Linked DNA regions of Homo sapiens. The protein of the gene in region 3 purifies or fractionates together with the protein of the main gene of each other region. This does not show direct contact. Each region holds a gene or a part of one and is shown on either strand. Other genes may lie near its edges. The genes, in order: AGGF1, RNF220 and ZC4H2.

Region 1 (10,665 bases), on a different chromosome or scaffold from region 3:
ATTGTGATAAAGAATTATTTTCTCAAGCACTGGAATAAACAGATCTGCACTGCCTTTATTACCATTACTACACTGCATGTTAACCTTCCTATTAAATGAGAAAAATCCCTAAGCTTTCTACTGTAATAATAATATAAAAAATTACATCTAGGGGACTATATTTGATAAATCAAAGAGCTTACCTTACTGACACCAACTTCAGGGATTCGGAGAGTATGTTCCATATCCTTTTCTCTGCAGAGTTAAGTAAAGTGTCTTTAATAATTTTTGAAGCATATTATATAAAGTGACATGGAAAGAATTTTAAAAAACAGATAATGTTAAAATACACGTCTATCAACAGTAAATCTCCTGGTTATGGATTATCCAGTTTCCTTACTGCTACTCTAGATTTCCTGTGCTTTCACACAGTGATTATTTACTCATGTCTTCTTTCCCCCTAGACTGTGCTTCCTTTGGGTAGACATTTTGCATTAGTCCTCTTTGTATCCACAGCACATAGAATAATGCTTAACATAATGGCCAGGCGTGGCAGCTTATGTGCCTGTAATCCTAGCACTTTGGGAGCCTGAGGTGGGTGGATCACTTGAGGAGTTCGAGACCAGTCTGGCCAACATGGTGAAACCCCCGTCTCTACTAAAAACACAAAAATCAGCTGGGCGTGGTGGTGCACGCCTGTAATCCCAGCTACTCAGGAGGCTGAGGCAGGAGAACTGCTTGAACCCAGGAGGCGGAGGTTGCAATGAGCCGAGATCGTGCCACTGCACTCCAGCCTGGACAACAGAGCACAACTCTGTCTCAAAAACAAAAAACAAACAAACAAACAAAAATACATGCTCTTAATAAAGCCTTTCTGAAATAACTGAAAGAATGATATAATAATATTAACCATTTTACCTTCCAATTGTAGCAGGGTTTACAGCAGTAATGATAAAGAGTGATCCTATCTGCAACACAGGTGATCTAATGACAATTACTCTAATACATGGGGGCCAAATTTTGTCTTCATCTGCCAAGGAAAGAAGTGAGTAAATATTAATTTAACTACTATGAAAAAGAACTTCATAGGGATAACTAGGAGGCATCCATAAAATAAAAATGTGTTGGTCAAAAATCTTAATTCTGACTAAAACAAACTTCTTAAATTCTGCTGTATAATACGCAGCAATGGGTAAGGCTTAACACTGTTATTAAAGTGATCCACATAAAGGTTGCTGCATATTTAGCATCTATCACAGTTATCAAATAATCAACTCTTTCTTTTTTAAGGTTTCAGAATCTGAAAAAATCCCAAATATTTTTATATTATTTTAAGTTATAAAAATTGAGTCCATTAAAAAAAAAAAAAAAAAGGCCAGGCACAGTGGTCCACACCTATAATCCCAGCACTTTGGGGGGCCGACGCAGGCAGATCACCTGAGGTCAGGAGTTCAAGACCACCCTGGCCAACATGGTCAAACCCTGTCTCTACTAAAAATACAAAAATTAGCTGGGTGTGCGTGGTGACATGCGCCTGTAGTCCCAGCAACTTGGGAGGCTGAGGCAAGAGAATCACTTGAACCCAGGAGGCGGAGGTTACAGTAAGCCGAGACTGCGCCACTGCACTCCAGCCTGGGCAATAGAGCAAGGCTCTGTCTCAAAAAAAATGCAAGAGAAATGCCATTGAGAACCAAAGAACAAAGTAAGCTCATATACTACACAGTTGGCCCTCGGTATCTGTGGGGGATTAGTTCCAAGATCCCTCCTCATATGCCAAAATCTATGGATGTTCAAGTCCTTATATAAATTGTATCGTATTTGCATATAACTTATGTGCATCCTTCTGTATAACTTAAATCATCTCTAGATTACTTACACCTAATACAATGTAAATGCTATATAAATAGGTACACCATATTTAGGGGACAATAACAAGAAAAAAAGTGTGTACATGTTCAGTACAGATGTAGCTATCCATTTTTTTCCCTGAATATTTTTGATCTGAGGTTGCTTGAATCCACTAAAGTAGAACCCATGGATACAGAAGGCCAACTGTAATATGAAATCCTGTGTTTTAAAAGTATGTCTTTATATATTCAAGTAAAAAAAAATTAGATTTACCATAATATCCATGTAGCTGAATTCATAATGTATACTTTTTAAAGACAACTTGTTTTTCTCTCTCAGTTACAAAAGTAGACTACAAATATCTAACCCACTAAAACAGCCTTAATCTATATTTTAAGATTAGAATCCAGGTAACCTGGCTTTGTATTCTACTGACTATGCCATTCAATACAATGAAACCTTCTGAAGGTCTAAGTATTAGTCATTTATTCACATCCTACTCTCTAAGAATAACCAAGTGGCAACCCACAACATTTTCAATAACATCATTAAAATAATGTTTACTTTCTGGCAGATATACTACAACTCACTAACATTTTTAATGGTTTTGCTCTTTTATAGTTACCAGACTGGGCTATTTACTTAAATAATGATTATTTACTCACCTTCATCCTCACTATCTTCTGCAGTTACATTGCCTTCACTGGTAATGGCTTCGTCATAACTATCCTCAGTCTGAGAGTCTGTAATTTCACCTTCCTCTGGTTCACTATCAGTCTCCATGATTTTCTCATCTTTAAATGATGTTGAATTAGAGATGTTTTCATGAAGAGGAGACTCTATAGTATTTCCACTAGTTGGAACAGTGACTTTGGGGGGACTATTTTTGTGATGAATGCCTATTTTGGCCTTCTTTTTCATATTTGCGAAATTTTCTTCCTCATTGCAGCTTGTATGTTCAACACTGAAGGCTTTTTGATCCTCTGAGTTCAAATCCTGGAGAAGGGTGGGTAGATACGAGGGAACAGGGGAGAATACTCTTAAACATCACTATCTTATAACATTACATCAAGTTTCAACGAATTCGTGAAGATATGTGTCAGTAAAATAACAATGGTTACAATCTGTTCCCCCTCTCCTTCTCACATTTCCTTTCTTGGTTAATGATATTACCATCTTCTTATTATCCAAATTAAAAATCCTATAGTTATCTCTGAGATCCCCTTAACCATATATAAAATTACGAAGTGCTACAGACTTTTCTCAAAATATATCCAAATCTGTCTCTCTATTCTCAATGTCTTAACATTCCTAGTTCAGGCCCTCATCACATACTGCCTGGACTATGGGATAGCCTAGACCAATGGTGTCCAATAAAAATGTAACACAAACCATATTTGTACTTTTACATTTTCTAGTAGCCACATTTAAAAAGTAAAATTATTAATGAGATAGTTTACATAGTCTGCAACATCCAGAGTGTATTTTACACTTAACAGCACATTTGAGTTTGGATTAGCAAAACTTCAAGTGCTCAACAGCCACATGGAGCTGCTGGCTACCTTACTGGATAGTGCAGGCCTAAAGAATACCTATTCTAAATTTTCTTTTTAAACTGGTAATCAATTAGCTAGTCAACACAAATAAAATACAGAATTAGCTTTACTTATGACATGAATTTAAAGATCCAAATGTACTCAATATGTAGCAAAATTGTAGTTTTGCTAAAATTTAGTACTTCAGATTCAGCTTGATAATACATAAAAGTTTAAAGTACAAATTAACTGTGACTATCTTATTCCAAAATTTTAACTTGCCTGGCATAAGTCTTTTATTATTTATTGTACATTTATAGTTGATATGCCTTATAATAAATGAACATTTTTTAATTAACAAAAATGATGTATTTTTATCATGTACAACATGAAGTTTTGAAATACGTACACAATGTACAGTGGTTAAATTGAGCTAATTAACATGTACATTACCTCAAATACTTATTTTTCTGTGGTAAGAAACTTAAAATTTGCTCTCAGCAGTTTGCAATAATACAACACATTGTTATTAACAATAGTCACCGTGTTATACAATGGTCAAATCTATCATTTCAGCCTTAGAAAAAGTAAATAATTATTTTCCATTTTTTTCCCTTGGTTTCTAACGCACTCTCACTTTTCTTTCTACCTCAGAGCAACATGAGGCGAATTCATATGCTCTTCTGTTATTTTATAAAATATGAGAGCATCTCACACACCTTTCTTTCTTTTTTTTTTTTTTTGAGACGGAGTCTCGCTCTGTCGCCCAGGCTGGAGTGCAGTGGCGCGATCTCGGCTCGCTCCAACCTCCACCTCCCAGGTTCAAGAGATTCTACTGCCTCAGCCTCCCGAGTAGCTGGGACTACAGGCATGCGCACCACCATACCCAGGTAATTTTTTTATTTTTAGTAGAGATGGGGTTTCACCATGTTGGCCAGACTGGTCTCGATCTCTTGACCTCATGATCCATCCACCTCACATACCTATCTTTGATAACAGCGTAAGTTCAGCTTGGAGACTGGCTAAACATTCACAGTGTGATAAATTATACACACTTCTAGCAATACAAATTCACCCAGAACAAGAACAAGGGCAAGGAGCTGAAAAACCATGAGGAGCTTTTACATTATAAAATTATAGCAAAAAAGTTCCCTATCTGTATATACTCTTAAAAAAGCAGTTTCCAATCTTGTATATTTATTACTTACTGAACAACATATGCAGGGAAAGCTATTTGCCAGTACAGAACATTAGATAGTCATTAAGTGAAAAGAAAGGAGGGCTTATTTATGGGCACTGAGGCACATATGTATATTTCAAATTATTTACTCCTATCTCCCCTACTGTCTTCCTTCCACATAACCTTCACCTACAAAAAGTGAGGCTCAAAAATATCTTTAAAAATAAAGAAAACAGATGAAGATACTCTCTTGGCCTCACAGGTACCTTTTAGAATCCTCAGGAAATTCTCAAAATTCCAACAGGATTTTTCTTAAAAGTTCTTGTCGAGTGCTCAATGGTGCCCAGGCTGGAGTGCAGTGGCGTGATCTCGGCTCACTACAACCTACACCTCCCAGCCGCCTGCCCTGGCCTCCCAAAGTGCCGAGATTGCAGCCTCTGCCCGGCCGCCACCCTGTCTGGGAAGTGAGGAGTGTCTCTGCCTGGCCGCCCATCGTCTGGGATGTGAGGAGCCCCTCTGCCTGGCTGCCCAGTCTGGAAAGTGAGGAGCGTCTCCGCCCGGCCGCCATCCCATCTAGGAAGTGAGGAGCGTCTCTTCCCAGCCGCCATCACATCTAGGAAGTGAGGAGCGTCTCTGCCCGGCCGCCCATTGTCTGAGATGTGGGGAGCGCCTCTGCCCCGCCGCCCCATCTGGGATGTGAGGAGCGCCTCTGCCCGGCCGAGACCCCGTCTGGGAGGTGACGAGCGTCTCTGCCCGGCCGCCCCGTCTGAGAAGTGAGGAGACCCTCTGCCTGGCAACCACCCCGTCTGAGAAGTGAGGAGCCCCTCCGCCCGGCAGCTGCCCACTCTGAGAAGTGAGGAGCCTCTCCGCCCGGCAGCCACCCCATCTGGGAAGTGAGGAGCGTCTCCGCCCGGCAGCCACCCCGTCCGGGAGGGAGGTGGGGGGGATCAGCCCCCCGCCCGGCCAGCCGCCCCATCCGGGAGGGAGGTGGGGGGTCAGCCCCCCCGCCCGGCCAGCCGTGCCATCCGGGGGGGGGGGGGTCAGCCCCCCGCCTGGCCAGCCGTGCCGTCCGGGAGGGAGGTGGGGGGGTCAGCCCCCCGCCCGGCCAGCCGCCCCGTCCGGGAGGGAGGTGGGGGGGTCAGCCCTCCGCCCGGCCAACCGCCCCGTCTGGGAGGTGAGGGGCGCCTCTGCCCGGCCGCCCCTACTGGGAAGTGAGGAGCCCCTCTGCCCGGCCAGCCGCCCCGTCCGGGAGGGAGGTGGGGGGGTCAGACCCCCGCCCGGCCAGCCGCCCTGTCCGGGAGGGAGGTGGGGGGGTCAGCCCTCCGCCCGGCCAGCCGCCCCGTCTGGGAGGTGAGGGGCGCCTCTGCCCGGCCGCCCCTACTGGGAAGTGAGGAGCCCCTCTGCCCAGCCAGCCGCCCCGTCCGGGAGGGAGGTGGGGGGGTCAGCCCCCCGCCCGGCCAGCCGCCCTGTCCGGGAGGGAGGTGGGGGGGTCAGCCCTCCGCCCGGCCAGCCGCCCCGTCTGGGAGGTGAGGGGCGCCTCTGCCCGGCCGCCCCTACTGGGAAGTGAGGAGCCCCTCTGCCCGGCCAGCCGCCCCGTCCGGGAGGGAGGTGGGGGGGTCGGCCCCCCGCCCGGCCAGCCGCCCCGTCCGGGAGGGAGGTGGGGGGGTCGGCCCCCCGCCCGGCCAGCCGCCCCGCCCGGGAGGGAGGTGGGGGTGTCGGCCCCCCGCCCGGCCAGCCGCCCCGCCCGGGAGGGAGGTGGGGGTGTCGGCCCCCCGCCCGGCCAGCCGCCCCGCCCGGGAGGGAGGTGGGGGGGTCAGCCCCCGCCCGGCCAGCCGCCCCGTCCGGGAGGGAGGTGGGGGGGGTCAGCCCCCCTGCCCGGCCAGCCGCCCCGTCCGGGAGGTGAGGGGCGCCTCTGCCCGGCCGCCCCTACTGGGAAGTGAGGAGCCCCTCTGCCCAGCCAGCCGCCCCGTCCGGGATGGAGGTGGGGGGGTCAGCCCCCCGCCCGGCCAGCCGCCACGTCCGGGAGGGAGGTGGGGGGGGGTCAGCCCCCCCGCCCGGCCAGCCGCCCCGTCCGGGAGGTGAGGGGCGCCTCTGCCCGGCCAGCCGCCCCGTCCGGGAGGGAGGTGGGGGGGGTCAGCCCCCCGCCCGGCCAGCCGCCCCGTCCGGGAGGGAGGTGGGGGGGGTCAGCCCCCCCGCCCAGCCAGCCGCCCTGTCCGGGAGGTGAGGGGCGCCTCTGCCCGGCCGCCCCTACTGGGAAGTGAGGAGCCCCTCTGCCCGGCCACCACCCCGTCTGGGAGGTGTGCCCAACAGCTCATTGAGAACGGGCCAGGATGACAATGGCGGCTTTGTGGAATAGAAAGGCGGGAAAGGTGGGGAAAAGATTGAGAAATCGGATGGTTGCCGTGTCTGTGTAGAAAGAAGTAGACATGGGAGACTTCATTTTGTTCTGCACTAAGAAAAATTCCTCTGCCTTGGGATCCTGTTGATCTGTGACCTTACCCCCAACCCTGTGCTCTCTGAAACATGTGCTGTGTCCACTCAGGGTTAAAAGGATTAAGGGTGGTGCAAGATGTGCTTTGTTAAACAGATGCTTGAAGGCAGCATGCTCGTTAAGAGTCATCACCACTCCCTAATCTCAAGTACCCAGGGACACAAACACTGCGGAAGGCCGCAGGGTCCTCTGCCTAGGAAAACCAGAGACCTTTGTTCACTTGTTTATCTGCTGACCTTCCCTCCACTATTGTCCCATGACCCTGCCAAATCCCCCTCTGTGAGAAACACCCAAGAATTATCAATAAAAAAATAAATTAAAAATAAATAAATAAATAAATAAATAAATAAAAAAAGTTCTTGTCTTGGAATTCGCACATTTTCAAAGAAGAATGGCAAAGATGAGTAGTTATGGGAGCGAGGCTGGACCAAAATATCACAGAATGCTTTCCATGTCTATTCTCTAGTTTTTCAGGCAAGGCCATTTGAGGAGCCCTACATATTCTTCTTCTATTGTTAGGGAGAGGTGCTTTCACAACCTAGCCTTCTTCTTTTTTTTTTTTTTTTTTTTGAGATGGAGTCTCGCTCTGTTGCCCAGGCTGCAGTGTGGTGGTGCGATCCTGGCTCACTGCAACCTCCGCCTCCCAGGTTCAAGCGATTCTCCTGCCTCAGCCTCCCAAGCAGCTGGGATTACAGGCATCTGCCACCACACCTGGCTAATTTTTGTATTTTTAGTAGAGACGGGGATTCACCATGTTGGCCAGGCTGGTCTTGAACTCCTGACCTCAGGCAACCCGCCTGCCTCGGCCTCCCAAATTGCTGGGATTACAGGCATAAGCCATCACACCCGACCTACAACCTAGCCTTTCAAACAATCAAACCACTAGTAACAAGCACAAGCCATTAAAACAGAGATCTTGAAAGCAAACAGAAAACTGATTTTTAGTATTTTAGTCACATACTCTTCTATTCCTAAGTATTGTTCACAAAAAAATAGAACAGAAGCAAATCAAATAGGAGAACAGAAAAAATCTAACAGAATCCTAATTCCTTATGTGAACTTTACAATTTAGTATCAAGTAATTTTTCTTTGGTTAAGAAAAGAAAAACTGGCTGGCACAGTGGCTCACGCCTATAATCCCAGCACTTTGGGAGGCTGAGGTAGGCAGATCACTTGAGCTCAGGAGGTCGAGGATGCAGTGAGCCATGATGGCACCACTGCACTCAACCTGGGTGACAGAGCAAGACCCTGTCTCAAAAAAGAACAGGACAGGACAGAAGGACAGAACAGGACAGGACAGAAGGACAAGACAGGACAGAGATAGGACAGGAAAGGACAGGACAGGAAACCATGAGATAAAATTTCAAGAGTAAGATATCAAATAGTTGCCACAGTTCATAAAATATCAATAAAACAAACAAGCCTCCTTTATAACCTATAAACCACCAAACTTACCTGTTTAGAGAGTAGAAATAAAGAACACTGTTAACTTTTTATATTTTCCTTCTTTCAATTTAACATTGCATCATCATAAGCATTTTTGGGGTTCCCCTTAGTCTTTACAAGTACCATCTGAAAGCCTACATAATACTTTTTTAAATTAAATGTAACTATCGCTTTCTTAACCATTGTCTTGCAGGCCATTTAAACTATTAATCCTAATAAATATGTTATCTCACTCCACAGTTGTCAGCAATGGATTTTTTTTTTTTTTTTAATATTTTCCTGGCCGGGTGCGGTGGCTCATGCCTGTAATCTCAGCACTTTGGGAGGCAGAGGCAGGAGGATCAGCTGAGGTCAGGAGTTCGAGACGAGCCTGACCACATGGAGAAGCCCCGTCTCTACTAAGATTACAAAAAAATTAGCCAGACGTGTTGGTGCATGCCTGTAATCCCAGCTACTCGGGAGGCTGAGGCAGGAGAATCACTTGAACCTGGGAGGCGGAGGTTGCGGTGAGCTGAGATCACGCCATTGCATTCCAGCCCGGGCAACAAGAGTGAAACTCTGTCTCAAAAAAAAAAAAAAAAATTGTCCTAGTAAGTAAAAAATTGCTCCACATAACTAAGAAAGTTGAACCTGTATCTATGTCTACCTATAAACTGTGTTTATCTTTTATTATGAACTGTGCATTGACATCAACTTATCAACTGAGGATCTGAATTCTTCTTCCAAACTATATACGAGATATTTTATCTGACCTTAATCTATCTCCTTCAAATTTTAAGAAATGCTTTCTATTTCTAGTGACAGAGTTTATGAAAAAGTCCATGTTTGCTCCATCTAAACTTTCCTAGGTTATCTTAATGGGTATGTTTGAAATGCAGAGTTATTGAATGATTGTCAGTTTCATAAAAAATTTTGTCTTAATTATCATGTTATCACCATTATGTCAATTTTTAAAATTGTAAAGACATTACCTTTTCCTCATTTGTTGCAGAAGAATCTGGATCTTTTCTTTTCTTCTTCAATTTTTTATCTTTACTTTGTTTTGTGCTAGAAGTCGGATAAGGTTGCAAATCTACTCGAGAATGAAACTGATAACGACCACTTTCCACATCACAATAGTAATAAATTCCAGTGGAAGGATCATAATAGAGTTGATTTTCCTTTGAAAGTCAAGAAAAAAATAAATTCTATTCATGTAAGATAAAATAAACTTAACGAAAATGCCAAATACATTCAAATGTGGTAAATATTTCTTTGAACAACTATAGTATTTTCAGAAGACAATGAATTAAAGATAACAATAAAAAATGCTTTAATCTTCCAAAATACTTTACCATTCAATAACTGATCTAATTTTCCTAGTGTGAGAAACAAGTAAATCTAAATATTAAATTTAATCATATAAAATTGTCAATACTTGACCACTTTTAACTTATAAGAAACAGCAATTTCATATGGTTCCACTTAATACATTAAAAAAATTGATAATACTTTTAAAGGCATGAAAACTAAAGCAAGCATAAGAAAAAGCTGACCATATGAGCGCAATTCTAGACTCCTGATTCTTAATGACTGCACAATAATGGTGTGGCAGTATAAACCCCTAAACCCTCCTCTCAATGTCATAAAACAAAGATTTGTCTTTTGATGTTCATAACTTAAAATTAGAGAAGAAAATTTTGAAAATAAAGTTCATGCATACCAAAAAATAACATTCTATAAAATGCAATCAATAAACTGTCTCCACTAATTAATCAGTTCTATAGTAAATAAGACTTACAAGCAACCATGCATAAATGAATTTGGCAAATTACAGATTTAAAAACCAGAAAGATAAAATTAGGTAATCACCTATATTTATGATATACTGGCCAGTACTCTAAAACCAAATTTAATTGAACAGTCTATATTTTATTTACATCCTAAATCCATGCAGACCAGACCCGGAAACATCTTTAATGTACTGAGATTGAGCAACTAAAACTTCCTGAAAAAGAATAATTTATTTTTCTAACTATTGACACTTGCAATTTATTGTCTTTAATCCATGCATTTTGCAGATCTCTTACAAAAAATATTTAGATTTCTCACCATCTTTCTCTTAACTAAGAAACTGAGTGGAGGCTTTCCAATCTTTATTTCTAGTAATAATGGAACTTTTATAATTCAAACCTTTTAAATCTGTT
Region 2 (10,665 bases), on a different chromosome or scaffold from region 3:
CTCCGAACAGCAGGCTCCTTCCCTGGCATTTTGCACAATGCCATATGTGCCATCCCCATCTGGATTACAGGTAAATTCCTGATAAGGAGACAAGGATTTGTAGCTGTGCTCCCTTCCACTCCAAGGACTAAGCTGAGAATTTGCCTAGTCCTATATAGTTATGTCAAAGATGGGGAAACTAAGGCCTGCAGCTGGGGGCAGCCTACACCAGAATGGAGAACTAACTCCCAAACCCCAAATCAGAGAACTAGAGCTGGAATGGCAAAGAAGGATGAGGCCAGGAGAGAATGAAGCCATTTCCCATGCCATCTCCAAGAGCTACAAGGCCCCACTGAAGGCCAATAGCCAACTCCAGAGCCTACCTATCCTGGATGTGCTCAGCACACACCTGCCCTCCAATCTTGGCTCTGGCGAAATACCCAAGCCTCCAACCCCTGGTCCAGGCTGGCTGTGAGCTATTCCTGAGTCCCTCCAGGGCATGGGGTGGGGAGATTCCTGGAGGAGCCATGGCATCCTACCATTCCTTTTCCCTGAGTAGTAAAACAGATCTAGGGCAAGAAATAGAGAAATCACGGGGACTGATGGGCCCCAGTCTCAGCAGATCCAGACCCAGTGGAGAGCTCTGCACATGACTGAGCCAGTCTCCACCTCATCATAGAGATCCCTGCCTACGGGTGCCTGTGCTCACACAGGTGGGACAGAAATCCTGGCTCCCCCCAGCCTTGGGTGGGTTGTACCTTCATGGAAGCCACTGGCTCTGCCCCCACCTCCCCCTCGGGCGCCATCCCTGATTAATGATCTTGTCTTTCTGATTTATGAGCAGCCCCTCCAGACGAGGGTGGGTGCCCCTTACAACCCCGCCCGCCCTGCTCAGCTGGAGTAGGAGAGAATTATTAAATAAACATCCATACGTCATTCCTCCCCACCACAAGCTGGTTGCGCAGAACCCATACGGCCCGCTCCGGCGCTGACACGGAGCAGCTGCGGTGATTCATGGGCAGCCGGGCCCTGCGCCGCGGCCCATACATCATGCCAGCAGCACTCGCGGCCCCGGCCGAGATAAACTGATCAACCACAACGGGCTGGAATGAATTTATGACAACACAAAATGGAGGGAAACAAATGGGAGGTGACCCTGGGCCACCGACCCGGCCCTGCACCGGCCTCCAATCCACTCTCCTGGCAGGAGGCAAAGATGGAACACTGGCCCTGGAATGAAGAGGCTGCCTTTTAACCCCAGGCAACCTAGCCTGCAGTCAGAAGGTGGGGTGGGTACTGGAGTTAAGCAATGACCAATGGCAGCAGCACCAGGCAGCCTAGACTGGACAATGCCATCTCCTGAGGCCAGAACTGGCCTTCCTTGGGCTTCTGGGAAGGCAGGAAGATGCCCAGCTGATACCAAATCTTTGTGGTTCCCAGGGATCCAGGCCAGGGGTTGCTCAGCCCTGGGCAAAGTGCTAATGGATCCCTTTTCCTCTGCCAGAGAACCCAGGCCAAAAATTCCTACCAGAAGTGATGATACCCAATGTTCCTGCCTAAAATCCACTGCGAGTGCCACCCGGGACAAGAAAAATGAAACCAATTTAGCTCCCGATTAAGAAACAGAAACTGGAGATGAATCAAGTGTGCCGGCTGGGCTGGGCGGCCATACATCACATTCCCCGGGCGAAGGCCGCCGCAGCAGGCGGGCAGGCAGGCAGGCAGGCGGGTGGACTGCTCCTCCCACCGCCAAGGCTTCTGGGGCCGTGGCCCAGTGATCAATTCACAGAGTCACGCTTAGCACCAGCTGGGCTCCACTGCCGGCCGTGTGCCCAGGGCAGCAGCACTGAGCTGCACTTGGGAGGGCCAGAAGCCCTGGCAGCAGGCCTTCCTGCTAGCAAAGGGCCCCTCCTCCCACTGAACTGTGGTCCCAGGGCTCTCTCCTGGCCAAACACTTACTTCTCGATGTCGCTGTTCTTGCAGGTCTTCTGCATGGCCTCCTGCTTGCTGCTTTCACCATTGCTGGTGGATGGCATCTCTGCTGGGACAGAGGGGCAACTCACACTCCGGCCAGACTGGGCAGCACAGGTGAGGGGTTGGGCTTGAGTCAGTCACCACCATCTAGGGATACCCCCTCTCCCCCATTACTCCTAACCTGGGGCAGGACTTACCATCACTGGCCCATTTAGAGAACTCAGGTGTGATGCGCGTGCTGGGAGGGCCGCCACTGGAGGAAAGGAGGGAGGAAAAACAAAGTGAGGCCTGAAGGCGGGCAGGACAGCCCTGAGGGTCAGTACTGCGTTAACCCCTGCCTCAGGGCTTCCTGTTTCTCTGCTCCACCCGCCCAAGCCTGTGCCCACACTTGCTTTAGGACTGCGCCCCGAAGTGCCTCTCTCTCCTTGGCTTCACCAGGCTCCTCGCCTGTGCAGGGGATGACATCAGCCTCTGTGTATCTGGCATGGTGGTCAAGGACAATGGATCCTAGTTTGCAGCAGGCTATGAGGGTTGAATCCTCAGGAGAGCATGGCCCTCCTGGCCAAAGCTGAGACTCTGGCCCGGGGGGTGGTGCAGGTGAATACTAGAAGAGCTACTTTTCTTATTCCCTGTGCCTGCCCTATCAGCCCCACCAGCCCCCATAGTGCTCCAAGGATACTGTGGCTTCCCATACTCCAGAGTGTCATCCCCATCCACATCCAAGTCAGCATCACTGTCCGGGTTCTCTTTGCCGCTGCACATGATGAAGCCAGAGCCTGTGGGAAGCAGGGTGTGAGGAGGGCCTGGGGACAAGACGAGGCCAAGGGTGCCCCTCCTGTTGCCTCCAGGTAGGGGTTAGGCTTTGGACCTGATAAGGCCCAGAGGGAAACCTGGGCCTGGGATGTATAGAGCCAGATACTTCAGTGCCCCTGACCCTGACATTTCAGGCCCTTCACTCTGCAAACCTCATCTTTCTCTGCTACTGCATGCTGCTCCAAGTGGTCTCTGCTCATAAACTAGCCCATTCATATATTATGTCACGTCCTCGGGGACACTCAGCCCAGGCCTGCTGTCCACCTATCTTCCAGGTCTAGGAAGAACAGTAAGAGGACAGAAAAATTCAGGTCTAGGAATTTCACAGGAAAAGAGTGGGGCCTCCCCTATGCCCCATTATCCAGCCTGACAAGTCCATCAGAGGAGAGAACAGGCTGGCTAAGGCCAATCAGAGCCACAGAGTGGGACCCCCGGCCAACATCCTGATTTTGGCCGCTAGGTCCTTGCCAGCAAAAACACCAGGCAGCTGTTCAAATATTTGGTGTCTGAAGCGCCTGACATTAATTATTCATCTCCACCTCACTCAGCCCAGATTCCTGGACAAGTGCAGTTATAAAGGGATTAAGAAGGGACAGACGAGGGAGGACAGGCATGCACACCTACTTCTCAAAGCAGTCCATGAAGGCAACCAGGCTGAGCGGAGGCCAGGCCATGGGCCACGCAAGTGGCTGACCCCTGAGGTGCATCTGGCACAGCCACAGACGGACTCTCAGCTCAGAGGGAGGGGCGAGCTGCTGGGGCTACACCAGGCCTGCTCACCTGCCAGGCGATCTCTCTGACATCCAGGACCACCCTTCCTGATAGCCTAGGGTCAAGTGCTATAGAGCTGTTCCCCCCAGCTCCCCACTTCCTCCTAGTGGGTCTCAGACCACACCTCACTAGCCAGCACAGCCCTGCCAGGGACAAAAGAATGTGAGACTCTGTGGCTACTGGGATCAGCAAGGAAATCCTTAAAGAAGTGAGGAAGCAGCTTAGTATCTGCCTGATGATTTCAGACATTTCTGCTTGTCCACTCTTTCCTCTCAGGTCCTTATACTCTCATTAGGGTATGTCTTGTAGGGAGTCCTCAGGCCTCTTATCTGTTCCTTCATTCTGCTTACCACTGAGTTCTGACCACCTTTCCTCCTGCTCCAAAACCATTGATGGCTCCCCACTGCATGCACAACCAAGCCCAGGCTCCTCAGCCAGATCCATGAAGATCTGGGTCCATTTATGTCTTTACTCTTGCTCTCTACTAATTCACTCTGTAAACCCCAAGCATGTGCACACACAGGCTGCTCACCAAACCACAAACATAGCCTGTATATGCTGCTCTTAAGACCCCTGCTCATGCTATTCACTCCATCTGGAATGTTCTCCATTTTTCAAGCCCTGAAAAACACTGAGTCTTGATCCTTCTCCCTTCTACCCCACCAGTCTCTGGTCTCACAAAGACACCACCAATCCCAAAGGCAAGCAGCATCGGGAAGGAAAGATGCCAGGCACAGCCTGCAATCCACCTCTCCCTGACAGTCCTCATTTGCCCTCTACCCTGAGGCACTGACACACTTGAGGCAGCAGGCAGGTCAGGTCAGCAGCAGGGCCATTAAGCTGAGAAAACACCAAGTTACAGCTCTGTCTCCTGTACACGGCCAGGTGTCCTGACAAGCAATTCCCGCCTTGTGGGTGAGTGGCACCTCCATAAACCCTCTGACAGTTTGGGAGACAAACTCCACCATCAATCAGAATGTAGCTATCAGGTTCACTTACAGCTTGCGGCACCCAAGTCCTGCCAACCCCCCTTCCCCAAGTACACGCAGCTCAGCAGCTGGCCTCACATCTTCTGCTCGGCCTGGCCCTGCCTAGCCCTGCCTTATAAGTGGAAAGCAGAGAACCCTGGCACCACATGTGAGCCCAATATGGCTCCATGGCAAAGCAGAGAAAACAGGGTACCCCAAAGCTGCCAGGAAAAGCCCCAGCTTCTCAACGCAGAAAGCAGCCCTGTAGCCTGAAGTCCTTTTCTCTGTAGTCTTACTGCCCACCATGCCTGGCCCAGGACTCATACTCCATTAAACAGAGCTACTGTGGTCTCCCAAATCCTGTGCTTTCTCATGCCCCCATGCCTCCGCACCTCCTGCTCTCTGCCTAGAACCTTCTCCCTCCTGGTCTACAATATACATGCCTGCTCCTTTGGCAAGTCTGACTCAGCCCAACCATGCCTCCTACCATTAACTCACAGTGCCCACACAGAGCAGCTGCTCTCTAAATCCCTGCTAAAGGAAAGAACTCTCACCTCAATGCCATTCTTTCAACCTTTATTGGGCTCATCCTCTGTTTGGCTCCATGTTGAGAATAGAGAGCTTCAAGATCTGATCCCTATCCTCATGGTGCTCTGCGTGGCAGATGGGGCTTCCCACGTTCTTATACACAGGTGTCCCTTCCCTGGTGTCCACCCAGAATCCTGTGTAACTCCAAAATCATATTTATTACCACCTATTGTCACTGTCCCTCACCAGAGTGGAAGCTGCAAGGGTCCCAAGTTTGACTCACTGTTGTGATCTCAGCATCACCCAGCAGAGCTGGCCAGGCTGATGGCTGGTGCCACACAGCACACCCCAGCAGTACTGGCTAAACACTGGCGACACTGCTCTATTAGGTCCTAGTTAGCTGGTGGCCTAGAGAAATCTCTCAGGATACAACTTTCCTTATCAGATCCCAGCTCCCAGCCGGGCAGCAGCTTTCTGTTCCGCTGGCCAGTGAGGCAGGATGGACAGCACGACACACTTTGTTTGCCAAAGAAAAGGCCTCTGCCTCTGGTCTGAGCCATTCACTCTGACCCTGACCCCATCCTCCAGCTGAGACAGATGTTGGGAACCTCTCCCTACCCCCACAGGTGTTCAGAACAGGCTGCTGCTGCCAATTTCACTCTTGTGCTGCCCCAGCCTGCTCCAACCTCTTTCCCAGCACATTAAACTTTATTTTCTTAATGAAATGTCACTTGCTGACTTCTGGCAGAATCATAATAAAAAGAAACGGCCATAAAGCCGTTTTATGCAGACAGCGCCCCCGCCAGCTTGCCCCCCCTCCCGCTTGGAGAGGAAGGCTCCACAGTCGTTTGATGTTCTCAGCTGCTGGAATATCCCAAGCCAGTACTCAGAGGCAAGATGGCACAGACAGCTCCTTTCCAAGTCTCTGGCTCCTCTTCCATGTAGCTCCAGCGATAACAGGCAAGCTGCCACTCCTACTACTGCTATCTAGGGAAGGAACTCAGCCCCCAGGACCTCCAAGATGGCCCAGAGTACCCTTCAGTCACCAGGGAGGGCCTCTTGCTACAGTTCTGCCCCAGCTTAAAGTGGCATAAAGGCCTGAGCCCCCACCCATAGGCAACCTAAGCCTGATGGTCAATGATACCCAGCAGGGTGGTGCCAGAGTTGTCCATTCCTGGCGGGGTGGGTAGTGCAAAAAAAAATATCCTTCTCCTCACAGTGAAAACTGAGCAACAAAGAGGGAGAGAGTTAAGTGCAGAAATGAAACACAGGTCTACGTTTTATAAAAACGACCCTTCTCCCATAAACTCATTTCTTCCTGGGTTATTGAGAAGGGAGAAAAAAAAAATCAGTGTTAATTTAATCAATTGATCAGATGATCGATTGAGAAACTGGAGATGCCCGTTTACTGGGGGCAGTATCGTCCTGGAACCTGAAACCACAAAAAAGGAGGCATCGATTTCCTCACCTGCTGCTCCCAACAAAACCAGAGCCCAGGGAGAAAGGAAACGTCTCGGGGCCCTCCAGGGGCCTGTGCTCTCCAACACGGAGGGCAGGGGCAGCAGCTTCCGGCGAGTTTTACACTGGAATTAGTTACAGATGCAGTTACGGTGTCTTGTGTAAACGCCATCGATTGGGGAGCTGACAGTCTGGGGAGCTGCGATGCGGGACAATCAATCGGCCTGCAGTGTCACCTGCCACCTCGCTGAACAGTTGACAATGCAATTATCCAGTGTGGAGGCAGGGAGTTGGCGTGTGTCAAACGCACTTAGCCACTTTCCGGGCCTCCTCGATAACGCGTTTCACTGCCTCACGTCAGGAGAGACGCAGAGAGACAGACGCCGTTTAAAACCATTGATACTTGCTCCTTCTGCCTGCACTCCCTCTGTCCTAGCTTAACAATTGTGTTCCAAAAGGCGATTAAATCCCATCAGTTGCCACGGGGGACAGAAGGTGCCTTGCTCCTTGCCACCTCTCCTCACCCCTCCCAACAGGCGACAGAGAGAACTAAAGATGGTAGGGAGTCACAAGGCAGCAGCCCAACCCTCTCCACTCCAAGACCGCCTCCAGCAGTGTGCTGTTCCAACACCTGTCACTGGCTGGACCAACAGCAGAGCTGCACTGGGGGACATTTTTAGCACCTGGGGCTCCCTTCTTTTGAGAACTAGCACACCAAAGAAGGCAGCAGCTAGGGCAAGGCCTATGTGCCCATGCCCTGGGGCTTACAACACCTCTTACCCCCTTGCCCCATACTTCTGGCGCTGAAGTTTTATCAAGAAATAGCCAGATAAAAGATTTGTGCCAGGCCGGGTGTGGTGGCTCATACCTGTAATCCCAGCACTTTGGGAGGCCGAGGTGGGTGGATCACCTGAGGTCAGGAGTTCAAGACCAGCCTGGCCAACATGGTGAAACCCCGTCTCTACTAAAAATACAAAAATTAGCTGGTTGTAGTGGCACATGCCTGTAATCCCAGCTACTCGGGAGGCTGAGGCAGGAGAATCTCTCGAACCCAGGAGGTGGAGGTTGCAGTGAGCCGAAATCGTGCCACTGCACTCTAGCCTCCAGCCTGGGTGAAAAAGTGAGACTCTGTCTCAAAAATAAATAAATAAAAAGGAAAAGAAAAGAAAAGAAGAGAAAAGATTTGTGCCACAGCTGCTCTGCCTGTTTGCTTCATGACTTCTCATCCAGCTACTTGGAACCGGCTTAAATGTAAGGAACTCATGAAAGATAAGAAACGCTTCAGGCCAGGACCTGAGCAGGACAAAGACCCTGCACTGCTGACTGTCTTAACACCCTTCTTTTCCCTACCCACTCCTCCTGTTTGGTTCAGAGGGGCTTCATGCTGGATTTTAGCAACGCAGTCACCGCCAGGGCTTAAAGATACAGCTGCAGGCTTCCATTTCCTGTGAAGCTTCCTGGGAAATTTCTCCATCTCACCACTCTTGTGCCCACATCATTGCCACCTTATTTGAAACCAATCATTCCCATGTCCTCTTTCCAGCATGTCCCTTCCAGATGTGAGGAGCTCTGGGCTCCCCAATGCAGTTGGGTGAACTCTCACTGGCAACCAACACACAGGAGGGACCATGGTTCACCACTATAGGTCTCTTCTCCAGGATCCAGGAGCTGGATGGAGGACAGGAGAGGAAAGGCATGGCTCCTTAGTCACACACCTCCTTAGACTACAGGTGGAAGCAGGCTTGTCTTAAGGGCTGTATAGTTAGGTTCCCCTGTAGTCTGCTTCTCTAGCCTAGAAGCCCCTTGCTCTGCCCAGGTTTGGCATGGTACCCAAGAAAAACATCTTTTCTCCCTAACTGCGGATCTCTTTTAGTGGAATGTTGGTGGCGCACTAGGCTCTGTGTGCTGTCCTTTATGTAAAGAGCAGTAGCAGGTTAGAAAATCTATGGTTCTGAAAGGACAATCAACAACTTAGACACACAGCTTAAGTATTTCTTCTAGAATTGGGAAGGTCAGAGTGCCTCCTAGGCAGCAAAAATTCCTTCCAACTTACTTTCTTGAAGTAATACCTATTTCCTTTAGTCTTTTCAAAAATCTGTTTCCAGTGGGACCTACCTCAGTGCTCACCTGCTCTGTCTGCTTCTTTATTTTGTCCTAAAATATCAATCCGAGTACTCCCAGGCCTGAGATATCTGGAGCTCCTCCTCAGTAACCACAGGTCCCCATCTCTAAGGCCTGTTGCCCTCAGCCAAGTGTCTCCACCGAAACTCTTGCCCGTTCACTGCTTCCCACAGCAGATTACATTTGAGGTAACCGATCTGATCCATCAGACCAACCTCCAGGGGCCTGGTGGGAAGCTTTGCTGAGGATGAAGAAGAGGCCCTACTCTGGGAGGAGGGATGGGGGTGATCGGATACAGGAACTTATCTGCAATTCTTCACTTCTTTCATATCTAACAACGACAGCAATCTCTGTTCTGTCAGCACGCACAGCGCAGTTTAAATGGGCCTCGCCACTCGCCTGCTCATCCTGCCTCTGCCTCCTTCTCTCTGAAGTCTGCTGGGCAGCTTCTTCAGCTGGCGTTATCACTCCCTCTAACCGGTCTTGGCAGGCAATCTAATTCCTCCTGAAAAGGTCACCGCCATTTTAACTGCCTTTCAATCACATTAAGCACGCGCTGCCCGGCTTGCAGCCCGGCCCGCCCGGCGGGCGATCAATGCGCTGCACTGACACCAGCCCGCCTGGCGAGGCCACACCCAACCCCCCAAGAGTTAGGGCCTATCAGTCCTGGCCAGGGAGGGTAGGCTGACAGATGGCCAGCTTTTGCAGACAGGGTTTTGGGGGCAGAGGCAGTAGGGATCAGCCAGGGCCTCCCTTTGATAGCCCCCCCACTGAGGAGCCTCAGCCTCCTCCGCTCCACTGCGCCCCGCTCTCTGCCTCGTGGCCCCCGCTGATCTCGCTGTAAAACAGCCTTTCAAGTCTGCCTGTCTTTTGACTGCACTAAGCTGTTTAAGAGGCGGCAGCAGCTTCTATCAGGAAAGCTGGAGCAATTCTCTGCAGATAAAGGCACCTCCGGCCCCTGTTCCCTCTTCAAGTCTCACTCTCATTCTCGCTCTCCAAATCGCTCAAAGAAAAGCCCCCTTTGAACTCCCCTCAGGAATTCTTGAAAGGAACAACCTCACAGTGTAAACACTCAGGGAAAACGGATACCCGCCCGGGGCCTAAGAGCCCCTCACACTGCTGTGCAAGTGCATCCCGGCACAGGGGAAATACTCTTGTCAAATCAGCAGGCCCTTTGCAGCTTTATCCTCCATAAGCCCTGTCTGGTGCCCAGAAGCCATCAGGTCCAGGTCTGTGCCAAGGAACCTAAGAAGGTGCCACAGCAATGGAGGATGTGAGCAGTTGCAGCTGCCAACAGAGCTAACCAGAGCAGCACGTTGAAACTGACCCTGTGTGGCTGCCATCGGACACCCATGTGTCCAACTCATGGGACAGTCGTCAGCCCTGCTGCTCACTCTTCTAGGGCCTCAGATACTCGAAGGCTCCAGTACGGGATGAGTGAAATGGCAAACTAACACTCTCCAGCTCCGGCTCAGGGAGACTGTTTGGTCTGACTAACCTTCCTGATTTATGTTTTGGCTTGCCCCCAAACACCTGGGTAATGTGAGAGACGCCCAGAGGCATAATGTCTCATCTGGGCTCTTAGCCCCTTCGTGGAACCAGTCTGCACTGGACGGCCCTGCAGAGACCACTCCTCAGCATCTGCCCAGGTAGCACGGCCCCACGAAGGCAGAGAACTTCTTCCCAGCTGCTGTGAGATTCCCCAGGGACCATACACAGCAGTATTCCCAAAGGTGTTGCCCAGAGAGAGAGGCAGACGGGAAGCAGATTGGCTCACTTAATGACCACAAGCTGCAGTACCAGCTGTGCTTGTGCACAGAAAGAGAGAAGAGCTGGAGGCCAAGAGGCAGACAGCTCCCCTTTTCCCCTGCCCAAGGCTGGGGAGTTTAACAAGTCACTAACCCTGGGCACCCAACCAATTCTGCTGTCTGACCTGGTGGGGGGTGTCAAGCCTTGCTCTTCCAAGGAGCTGGGAGGGCACTGGAGATGGGCAGGGCCCTGCACACTCCTTTGTAGCAACTGGGGAGAGCCCAAGGGAAGGAGGGAGCAGCTG
Region 3 (10,863 bases):
GATTTTGAAGGCCCAGGAGAGGACATCTGCCTTCCCACTCCTCTCCCAATCTGTTTACTTGCAGATACCAGATGTTTCATTCATAGGCATAAGGTTTGGTCTATTGTTTACAATGCAACCAACCCCTGGGTGGGGTACTACTAAGATTTATGTGTTATTTTTACTTTCCCAGTCTGTTTCATTTTTATTTTATGAGTGTCATTTTTCATTGTACATTTTTATACAGTTGAATCTGTCCATCTTTTCCTTGTGGTTGCTTATTTGTCATTGTGGCTTTATAAGTTATCATCCCTCTAACGCTTCTACTATAAATGAAGCCATTTTGCCCCAAACTTAGGGGAAATAATGGCTACAACCTTCACATCAAATGCTGCCCTGTCCATTTTGAGATTTCTAAATGAAGCCTCTGTCATTGTCTTCTCAAGCCTAAATCAAGACAACTTATTTATAGTTTTTTCATGCTTCTCTCCTGTTTCTATTCACTGAATTATCCCCAAATTTGGGTTCTCCAAATGACTCTAAGAATTAGGGCAAGTGGTGAGAAGGATGAGGGATATTGACCTGTAATCAATGCCTATTATAATTCAACCAATGTGCTAGGTGCTTTCTCATAACTTATCTCTTTTCATTTAATCATTAAACAGCTCTGTGAGGGGGACAAGGGCCCTATGAGTAGTTCTAAAGTACCCCAGCCTGGGAAAGATGTGCAGGGAACCTGGTAAGACTCAGCCCTTTTGGAAACTCAATCCCATACTTAGTTCTGGTGATATAAAGGAGGCTGTTAGAAACGGAAGGTCATTGGAGCTAGACAGTCAGTTTTGGTCACTCTCAAAGAGGTGAGAATTGAAGAAGAGGGGAGGGTGTGGATGAAAGTTTACTAAGAAAATGCAGTAGATGTACACTAGACTGCTTTTATAATAGGATTTTTTACACTAGGGTTTTTCGGACTTGCAGAGGGGAAAAATGGGACTCCCCTACTTCCACTGCCAGATCTTTGTTCCCTGAAATTTGCATTTGGGGGATCTAGGTCAGTGACATTGGGTAGGTGAGAAAGAATAGAGGAGTGAAATTTCAATGACATAAAGCCATCAAAAACAGCAAGAATTTCAGCTGAAACATTGCCTGAGAATACCTAGCACTGTCTATGTAAGCAGATACAAATTCTGGCTAATCACCCACAAGTCCCATCTCCTAGGGGAATCTTCAAAGTTAAGGCTTCAAACACACCCCTCAACACCCCAGCTGAAGGGCTGAAGTGATGGAGAACATGAAAATTTTCTGAGAGAGTGTGAAGAATGAGATTACCTATCTCAGCTCCTAACTCCCTAACCTAGGGAGGTCAATTACCATTTCTGTTCTTCAGTTTTTCCATATATCACATGTGAGTGCCTTCTAGCTCTAACATCGTACGGTTCTCTTCCAGTCTTTCCTGTTTCAGTGAATGGCACTGACCTTATTACTGAAGCCAAAAATCCAGGAGTCATTTTAGATGCCTTATCTCGCCCTCCGTACCTCTCCATCCTATCCATGAGCTAATCATATCAGTTCTGTGCCCAATAATATGTTCCCAATCAGCCCATTTTTCTTCATATCTACTATTACTACTGTAATTCAAGCCACCATAATTTCTTTCCTGGACAACTGTAATAGTTTTCCCACTGGTTTTCCTACTTCCACTTTTGCCCCAATAAAATCTGTTCTCACAGCAGTCAGTGATGTTTAAAAACTAGATCATGTTGCTCCCCTGCTTAAAACCCTCAATGTTTGCCTATTGTAATTAGAATAAAACCCAGACTCATCACCATGGTTTACAAGACCCTGTTTTTAGAATAACAGTTCAATGACATAAACTGTCTCCTCAGTCTACTTCTGCTCCCCTTAATCAGCCAGAGCCCTACCTACTTTTTTTTTTCATAGGCTAAGCATTTTCTGACTCAGGACCATTGCACCGGCTATTCGTTCTGCCTGGAGCACTCTTCCTCCAGATCATTGTATGCCCAACTCCTTATGTCTCCACTACAATGTCATCTCTGAACAGGAGCCTTCCCTGACCATCCTAACTAAAACATTCCCCCTCCTGCCATCATTCTGTCCTATTATCCTCAATTAGTGTCTTATGGGCTTATCTCCCCCAAATATTATTATGTTTATTTTTTTTTCTTTTCTGTCATTATTGTCTGGCTCCTCCTACTAGAATGTAAACTTCCTAAGAACTGGGATCTTGGGTAACTAATAGAACATAGTAGGTGAGAGCATGGCTTCTGGAGGCAGACTCTCTAAATTTGAATCTCAGTTCTGCCACTTACTAGCTGTGTTACTCTGGGCAAGTTACTTAACTTCTCTGTGCCTCAACTTCCTCTTCTGTAAAATAAGGATGATAATAATATATACTTCCTGTGAAGTTTTTGCAAGGATTAAACTAACTTAATACATGCAAAGCACTATATATCCCTGGAACCTAGGAGAGTGCCTGGCATGTAGTAAGTGTTCAGTAAATATTTGTTGGCTGTTTGCATGAATTAATCCTCGATACCTCCTGCTGTTTCCCTCCCTTCCTCTCTCATCCTGCCTAGTTTTGTTCAGGAAGCTTTTCCCTGACTCCTTGCCCACTTCTCAGGACTAAATTGGTTCTCCCCTTATGTGTGTGTGTCTTGCTCACAGAACCTAGACTTATTTCAAGCCCTGATTGCTAGGTATAACTATATATGTATGCATGATCTTTGTAATAGCTGGTCTCTCTCACTAAATGGTAAGCTTGGTAAGGGCAGGGCCCATGTCTGTCGTATCTGCTATGAAATCTTCACTGAAACCTCGATGGTTCCTGACATATCATAGGTGCACAATAAACATTTTTGGGCTGAAAACTTTTGGCTCACTTTTCTCTTAGAAATGCTGATTAAGAAATATAATGAGAAATTTAATAAGTAATTTGCACTACTTTTTGAAAGGCAATTTGGAACCAAGACTGTTGTTGCATCTCTGCCTCCTTTTAGTTTAGTTCACTGTTGAAGTACAAAGAAATATCTGTGAATTCAATATTCTGGCCTCCATTTTTAAAGTCTTGATCTATTCCCTGAAAGTATAATCGAGACTGACTGGCTTCCCTTTTGCTAATTTCTTGCATTTTAATGGTATTAACCCCAACATACCCTGCCTTATTGCCTTAGCAATAAGAATAATGTTGGCCCTGATAAAACTAAGATTTTTTTTTATTTCTAACCCCTCAAATCAATCAGTTCTTCTAATAAAATCATGCATTAGAACTCACTGCTAGCCCATATCTTAAATATTGTTTCAGCCATTGCAAACTTCTGATCAATTGAGAGCTACTGAACACTTACTATGGAAAAGCCACCACCTTGGCTTGCAGATACTGTTTTAAGTGCTGCTTCAGAAGAAGGGGCAGAAGGCTATAGTTTCCTTCTCTTCCCCACTGTTTCTCTACAACATTTTCCTTCCTCTCACTGCTAGCCTGGATTCTTAAAATTCAGCAAGGAACAGGTGAGACATCTGTTCTCAAGGAGGTCAAGGAGCCAAAAGCAAACCAGCAGAAGCTAAGAGGCACATTACTCTTTCTGTATTTGGACATTTTAATTGTTACAAATAGCACAAACCTTCTTCCAAGCTCCAGGTTTTCCCATGGCCTCTTCTCTTAGATTAACTGCTATCTCCCTTAAATGTCCATAGTTGGAAGCATGGGACATGCTTGGCCCTCTGCAGACACCCTATATTGGAGTGCACCTTCTGGCTGAAAAGTAACAGAGGCATTCAGGCCCCATGGTAGCAGCAGCAGCTTGATACAGGCCGCATGGGGCCATAGGAAGAGCACAGGCCCTTGAGTCAGGAGTCTTGGTTCTGTTTCAGCCAAGTAGGGTGATGTCAGACAAGTCCTTTGCCTCTCTTGGTCTCAGTTTCCTCATCTGTAAACTAGGATTTCGGTGAGGCTTGAAAGACAAGATAGTTCCCAAATTATTACCAAATCAGACTCTAAACCCATTAACATATTTAATTGAAACAGATACATACCCACATCCAGACTTTTACCAGATGTGTGAACATAGTCAGTGGTAAGGATTCTTAAGGTGAAGGGGACAATGGAAAAAGAGAGAGACATTAAATTTAAAATCTCAAAGGCTGTTCATAAATTGCTTCCCACACATCCCATACAAACCCTCCGCTTCTCCCCAAGCCAGCATTAATGCATTATAAACCACTTTATGTTTGACATAGATACATACACTCGGGACCCCATTGTAGTTTTGGTTGCTATATATATATATTTTTTTTTTCCAGACACACTCTCTTCATTAATCTGCAAGTAACTTGGTCCAAACTGGGCACAGGCTCTAGCTTTATAACTTATTGTGTGGACATGGCAAAACAACTTTCCCTATCTGAGTCAGTTTTCTTCCTTCTAAAAGGGGATGAATCTACTTGCCCCCTTCATAGTGGTTGTGAGGATGAAATGATAGATTGTACATATCAGACTCAGCACAGTAGCCAGTACATGTCAGGCACTTAACGCAGGCTTGTTGCTTACCTCCTCCCCTTACGGGACAGAGCTGGGGCCAGTTCTTGGCTCTGGATCCACAGGCTTTGTGACTAACCAACTCAATGTTCTTTAAATACCAACTAGTGGCTGTACAAGATAGCAACCTTCAAGACAATAGGAAAATGTAGACACCAGGGAGAATTTTATGGTTAAGAAAGTTATTACATCTTGGATCCAAAGAAGAGAAGGGCTTTAATTTCTTCCCTGGAGAATGCTTAAAATCACTGTGGACATCCAGAATGACATGAGATTCATGTTCCACAAACTTCTCAAGCTCCTACAAAATACCAAGCCCTGTATTCAGCATGATCATGGGAATGATCTCATAGAGGCCTCCCAACAAGCCTCTGAGGTGGGCTCACTAGGTACATTTTTCAGATGAGGAAACTGAAGCTCAATAAAAGAAAGCACAAACTCAGAGAGAGTTCTGACTCACTTTTAGTTGGGAGTGAGTCACCATCTTCCTTTTGCCCAACGTCCAGCTCTCTAGGCCTGTTTGTGCACGCTGAGTAACTGCCTCTTACCTGGTCTCATGTCCTCTAATCATTCTCCACTTTGCTTCCAGAGTCCCTCTCTAAAATATTCCTCCATCCTTATCACTACCGTGCTTTGAAACATAAAATAATTAAACATTACTTGGTGCAGAATAAGCACTTAAAAAATGTTTATTAGGGCCAGGCGCAGTGGCTCATGCCTGTAATCCCAGCACTTTTGGGAGGCTGAGGCGGGTGGATTGCTTGAGCTCAGGAGTTCAAGACCAGTCTGGCCAACATGATGAAACTCCATCTCTACTAAGAAATACAAAAATTAGCCGGGCATGGTGGGTGGGCGCCTGTAATCCCAGTTACTCGGGAGGCTGAGGCAGTAGAATTGCTTGAACCCAGGAGAAGGAGGTTGCAGTGGGCCGAGATCTGTGCCATTACACGCCAGCTTGGGCGACAGAGTGAGACTGTCTCATAAATAAATAAATTAATTAATTTAAAAGTTTATTAGATAAATGTCTGCCTACAGGATTAAGTCCAAACCCTTTAGTCTGACATTTAACGTATTTCATAGTCTGGTTCCTACCTGCCTTTTCTAAATACTACATCTCCCATTTCTTTTTTCCACCTCTACACCTCATATAAGAAACCTATATTTCAGGCACTCTGAACCACTCATCCTTTCCTTTCTCTCTCTATTGTATCCTCACCTGGAGAGCCCATTCTCCTCTATGGTCTGACAAATTCTTAGTCACTCTTGAGACCTATTTACATCTTCTCTGCACAGGTTACACCTTATCTATTCCTGTATTTTGACACCACACTGTACTGTAATTAATAGGTAAATTTTCAGCCTCTTCTGTTCCTCAAAGGCAAGGATTTGCTTTTATTTATCTGCCTTGCCCGGTGACTCCTACAGTACTTCTTCCATTGACTGGCAAAGTCCGAGCTTAAGTAATTGTTTGTTGAATGGGTAAGTAGCTGGAAGTACTTACCCACTCTCCTTTCCCCCAGCTTTTGCAGCATCTCCCTCCTCCCATCCTCCTCTTCCCCACCCCCGCCCCACCCTAAATTGAATGCCAAAGTTACTGGTCCCCAGGCAGCAGCTAGCACATTCAACGTCTCCAAAGCTACTTTCCCTGCAGGGTTTCTTTCCATCCCCAAGGCGTAATTAGCGACTACCGCTAATCTTTTGCGGGTGGGTAGGTGCGAGGGCCCCCGAAGGGAGCGAATGGGTATGTCTCTCATCTCTCCAATTGCCTTCAGGAATATTTTTTTCTCCATTTTCCCACACACGGGCCAGACGAATATCCCCATTCCTTTGCACTCTTCACAACCTTTGACATAATTATCTATAACAAATTGATTTAAAGTGCGGCTGCAGGAAGGGAAACAGGCATGTCTCGCTTGGCCTTCTGGGAGTTGTAGTCCTACAGGCCCCCGGGCTTCCTGGCTGGCCCTGAAGCTCCGGACTACAGCTCCCAGGCCTCTCCAAGCCCCTACCGCACAGGCTCATAGCCCCAAGCCCGGAGGAGGTGGCTACATTGTGTCTATTGTATCCCTTGGCTGGTGTATTTGTACATCTCTCGGGACGTGAAATTGACAGTGAAAAGTATGGCAGATGAGCAAGAAATCATGTGCAAATTGGAAAGCATTAAAGAGATCAGGTAAGTGGCACGTTGTCCCCCTCCCCGCCCCTCTCCAACCCTTCGTTGCGGGAGAGGGCTAATTATCTATTGTTGGGCTGTTTGTCTAGAGGAGCTGGAAAGGGGCCCATTCACCACAGACTTGCCGGAGAGGTGAGGATGGGAGGGGCGCTGAGGAGAGTTGAGAGAGAGAGAGACCTCTTGCCAGATGTGGCTGAGAAAGCAAAGATGAAGAAACACGGGTTTGGTACCAAGACAGTTTTATTCTTCTCGAGGTGGAGGTCAGGGCTCTGCATTCATGGACACGTTTTTTAAAAGTACTTGTGTGCCCCAAGGTGTCTTTGGCTCCTTGCTCTTTAGGAGTCGGGATTTTTTTCCAGTCTCTTGTTCAACTTCAGAACCTGGAGTTCGGGAAAGGCTTTTGAGAGCCAAGTCTAGCGCATCGGGGCTGGTGGCTGCTGCCAGGGGCTGCCAACTGGGGGTTGCAGAGGAATCTCAGCGGGCGGAGCTGGGAGAATGGCGCGCGCTCGTTTTCCTTTCACTCACTCGCCACTTTCTTCCTTCCTATCCCGCGCTTGGGAGGGGGATGGGAGCAATGGGGACTGGGGACGCGGTCGCTGCGCTGATGGTGGGATCGCGACAGCTGCTCTGAGGAGCTGGAGGTGACAGGCGGGCTGGCAAAGTGGGAGTTGCCGAAGTGGAGTCCGCTACACGGTTGCTCCTGGAGCAGCTTTTGGCAAAGCGATGATATTGTCCTTGCTCAGAACACAATAGCGCCAGGCGGGCTGTGTGGGCTGGCACAAGGTCTTTCTTCACCTCGCCTTCTCAGCGTGAGCCCCTGCTTTGGCTTTTGCTCTCACTCTGAGAGTGGCCTGGGTCAAGCTCTCTCCCTGGAGTGTTTTCTGAGAACCCAAGGTGGAAGATGTCAAGTGTGTTTCTTTAAGAAATAAGACTTTGATCATGAGATTTAACCCTTAGAGTGCTGGATGAGACCTACACATGGTGATTAGTGGTGGTAGGTAAAGCACCTTGGTTTCTTCTTCTTCTTGAGGGGTTGCATCTCTCTTTCTACAGGAGAGGTAAAGGAAGGGAACTATCATTTATTGAGTCCCTTCCCGCCCCTGTGTGCCAGGCCCTTTGACCTACTTTTGCTCATTCAGCAAGAGTCCTGTGAGCTTCCTACTCCTCCTTTACAGCTGGGGAAATAGAGGCCCAGAGAATTTGAGTGATTTTCCCACAGCCACGCAGCTTGAAATTGCCACATTTTGTTGGTCTGCCTGCAAAGGTATTCCTTTTCCCACTATGTCCCAGGTAAAGTCTGGAAAGGAGAAGGGAATATGTTGCAATTTTTTTTTTTTTTTTTTTTTTTTTTGGCAAAAGCATCAGAAGCTAGCTAGAAAGTGAGACACCTTAGTACAGTAGAATGCCAGCTGTCATAACGATGCAGCTAGTCAGAAGCTTAGGCTTGCAAATGGAGAGCCTAGACTTCCACTCTCACCAAGCTTCAAAGGAACCACCACCCCATGCCCAGAGAAGGACCAGTTGTGAGCAAGGACTTTAATCCCCAGTGAAAATAGACCTCTCCCAGTGAAGACCATATGGAGAACCATGACTTCTACCCTTACCAGTGGTAACTAGGAGTTTCTACCTCAACCAGCTAGGATGGAATCAGCATAGGCCCAGAGAGAAGGCCAAACTTTCACCTCTAAACAGCAGTAACAAACAGCCCTTCTCCAAACTGGATGTCAAGAGACAGTGGAGAAACTGGACTTCTACTGTCCCTCTTCCATCCAAGAGAGTGGTAGAGGACTGCTAAAACAAAAGATTTAAATAAGATCCAGAGTATCCAACTTTTAATCAAAAATCACTTTCCATACTAAGATATCCACTTGAATGAGAAGAGAAAATAAACAGATGCCAATACTGAGATAACACCCATGTTAGAATTATCTGATAAGGATCTTAAAGCACCTGTCCTAAAAACATTTCAGTGAGCAGTTACAATACACTTGAAACAAATGATAATGTAGAAAATCTCAGAAAATGAATAGAAAGTCTCAACAAAGAAATATAAAACATAAAGAAGAACAAAGTGACATTTTTAGAACTGAAAAATACAGTAACATAAAAACCCCAAAAAACTCAATGGATAGGTTCAACAGTAAGGTGGAGAAGAGAGAGGGAAAAAATAGCTTACAAATATAAAACAATAGAAATCACTGTGGCACTATAACAAAAGCTTTAACATTTATGCCAACAAATTCCCAGGAGAAAGAGGGCAGGATTGGAAAAGTATTGGGAAAAATAATGACTAAAATCTTCCCAAATTGTGCAAAAGACATAAACATTTAGATTCAAGAAGAGGAGCAAACACCAACATAATTGACACAAAGAAACACACTCCAAAACACATTGTAATCAACCTTCTGAAAATGAAAGAAAAAGGAAACTTCTTCAAAACAGCTGAAGAGAAACAAAAGCTACAAAGGAAAAAAAAAATTAGAATGACAGATTTATCATCAGAAACTGACGATGCCCTAGCATTTTGTAAGTGCTGAAGGAAAAGAAGTGACAACCCATAAATCTATGTCCAATAATAATATCCTTCAGTATTGAATGGGTAATCAAGACATTCTCCAATGAAGAAATACTAAGGAATTTAGATATACCCTAAAAAAAGATGATAGTAAGCTCTGAAAACAGAAAAGAAACAATAAACAGTAAGCAAAAGCATGGTTAATGCAGTAGACTTTCTCTTTCCTCTTGAAATTTCTTGTATTTTGATAATTGAAGCTAAATTTATACTGTTATCTAGTGTGGTCTCAGCATATGTAGAGGAAATATTTAACACATTTATATTGTAAACTGGGGAATGTAAAGGGGATTGTAAATGTAAAGAGATGTAAAGGGGAGGACATGCTTCTACACTTCATTCAAGCATGTAAAGTGGTAATGTCAGAAGACTATTAAATAAATTATGTATACATAATATATTACTGAGAGAAAACACTGAAAATGCTATACAAAGAAATGTACTCAAAACATTATAAATAAATCAATATGAATTTTTAAAAAATGCTCCAGTCACCCACAGGCAGGCAGGGCAAAGAAAATGGAGAAACTAAAATTACGGAGAATGAACAGAAAAAAAAATAAAAAGGCAGACTTAGCCTTCATGTATCAATAATTATGTTCACAACAAATAGTCTAAATACCTTGCAAACATTAATCAAAATAAAGCAGGAATGGCCATCTTAATATCAAATAAAACAGACTTCAGAGCAAAGAAAATTCCTAGAGATGGATATTACATAATGAAAAATAGTCAATCTACCAAGAAGACATAACAATTCCAAATGTGTGTGTTCCAAAAGTGACTTAAATTAAACTGCTTTTGACAATTTTACAGTAATATACAAAGGTTAAGCCACTTGGTTTAAGAATTTAAAATGGAGAAAGTACTATAAATATATACTTGATGTTCACATATGGACAGATAAACATGTATGAGAGATAGAAATAAGGAAGGAGCAAAGGGTCAAAGAAACTGAAGAAAGGAACTAACATTTGTCAAGCACCTTTTAATTTAAAAGCTCCTGGCTCATTTACTCTTTAGTCTTCCCAAAGGAAATCTGGGATAGGAATTATTACCCCCACTTTACGGATAAGGACATTGAGGATCAGACAGATTAGGCAACTTTCCCATGGTTACACAGCTAGGAAAGAAAAAATAATATATCCTCCTATTCACATGGCATGCACATTTCAATGTTATTAACTGCCCTTACAAATGCTGATTATCTGATTAACCATTATTCACAGTTCTTCAACTGCTATAATCCTAAATCTCCTGAAGTATAAGCATAGCAGCATATTTCTGTTAAAGAAATAATGTTTGCTGGACAGAAGCAGGAATGATGACAGCAGCATCATCTAATGACCTATTGAAGTCAAGCTAAGAGCCTTACACACATCAAGACACGAGCCCAGAAATATATGCATTCATACTCAGCACTCACACCAATGGCAGAATTTGCAGTGGGAAAAACATCAGAAGCAGATTCTCCCACCACAGACCATTTTCTGCTTCTAACTCTGAACACACGCCTACCCCTGTCTTTCCTCCCAATCCCAATCACACTCCCACATTATGTTCCCAACCTCAGCCTCCAAATCCTACACT

What was found.
Region 1: the proteins of ZC4H2 (region 3) and AGGF1 purify together in Homo sapiens (affinity purification with mass spectrometry; 3 studies listed by BioGRID and IntAct, with this or other methods). This does not show direct contact.
Region 2: the proteins of ZC4H2 (region 3) and RNF220 purify together in Homo sapiens (affinity purification with mass spectrometry; 3 studies listed by BioGRID and IntAct, with this or other methods). This does not show direct contact.

What each region holds. Positions count from the first base shown.
Region 1 is NC_000005.10:77,038,505-77,049,169, reverse strand, and holds part of AGGF1 (angiogenic factor with G patch and FHA domains 1), read right to left. Parts: intron 9,640-10,665; coding exon 9,451-9,639; intron 2,824-9,450; coding exon 2,493-2,823; intron 1,010-2,492; coding exon 898-1,009; intron 235-897; coding exon 183-234; intron 1-182. UniProt on the Homo sapiens protein: Promotes angiogenesis and the proliferation of endothelial cells. Able to bind to endothelial cells and promote cell proliferation, suggesting that it may act in an autocrine fashion.
Region 2 is NC_000001.11:44,636,762-44,647,426, reverse strand, and holds part of RNF220 (E3 ubiquitin-protein ligase RNF220), read right to left. Parts: intron 2,730-10,665; coding exon 2,633-2,729; intron 2,433-2,632; coding exon 2,346-2,432; intron 2,207-2,345; coding exon 2,151-2,206; intron 2,068-2,150; exon of another isoform or gene 2,018-2,067; coding exon 1,939-2,017; exon of another isoform or gene 1-1,938. UniProt on the Homo sapiens protein: E3 ubiquitin-protein ligase that promotes the ubiquitination and proteasomal degradation of SIN3B. Independently of its E3 ligase activity, acts as a CTNNB1 stabilizer through USP7-mediated deubiquitination of CTNNB1 promoting Wnt signaling.
Region 3 is NC_000023.11:64,972,163-64,983,025, reverse strand, and holds the start of ZC4H2 (zinc finger C4H2 domain-containing protein), read left to right. Parts: upstream 1-6,575; 5' UTR 6,576-6,648; coding exon 6,649-6,701; intron 6,702-10,863. UniProt on the Homo sapiens protein: Plays a role in interneurons differentiation. Involved in neuronal development and in neuromuscular junction formation.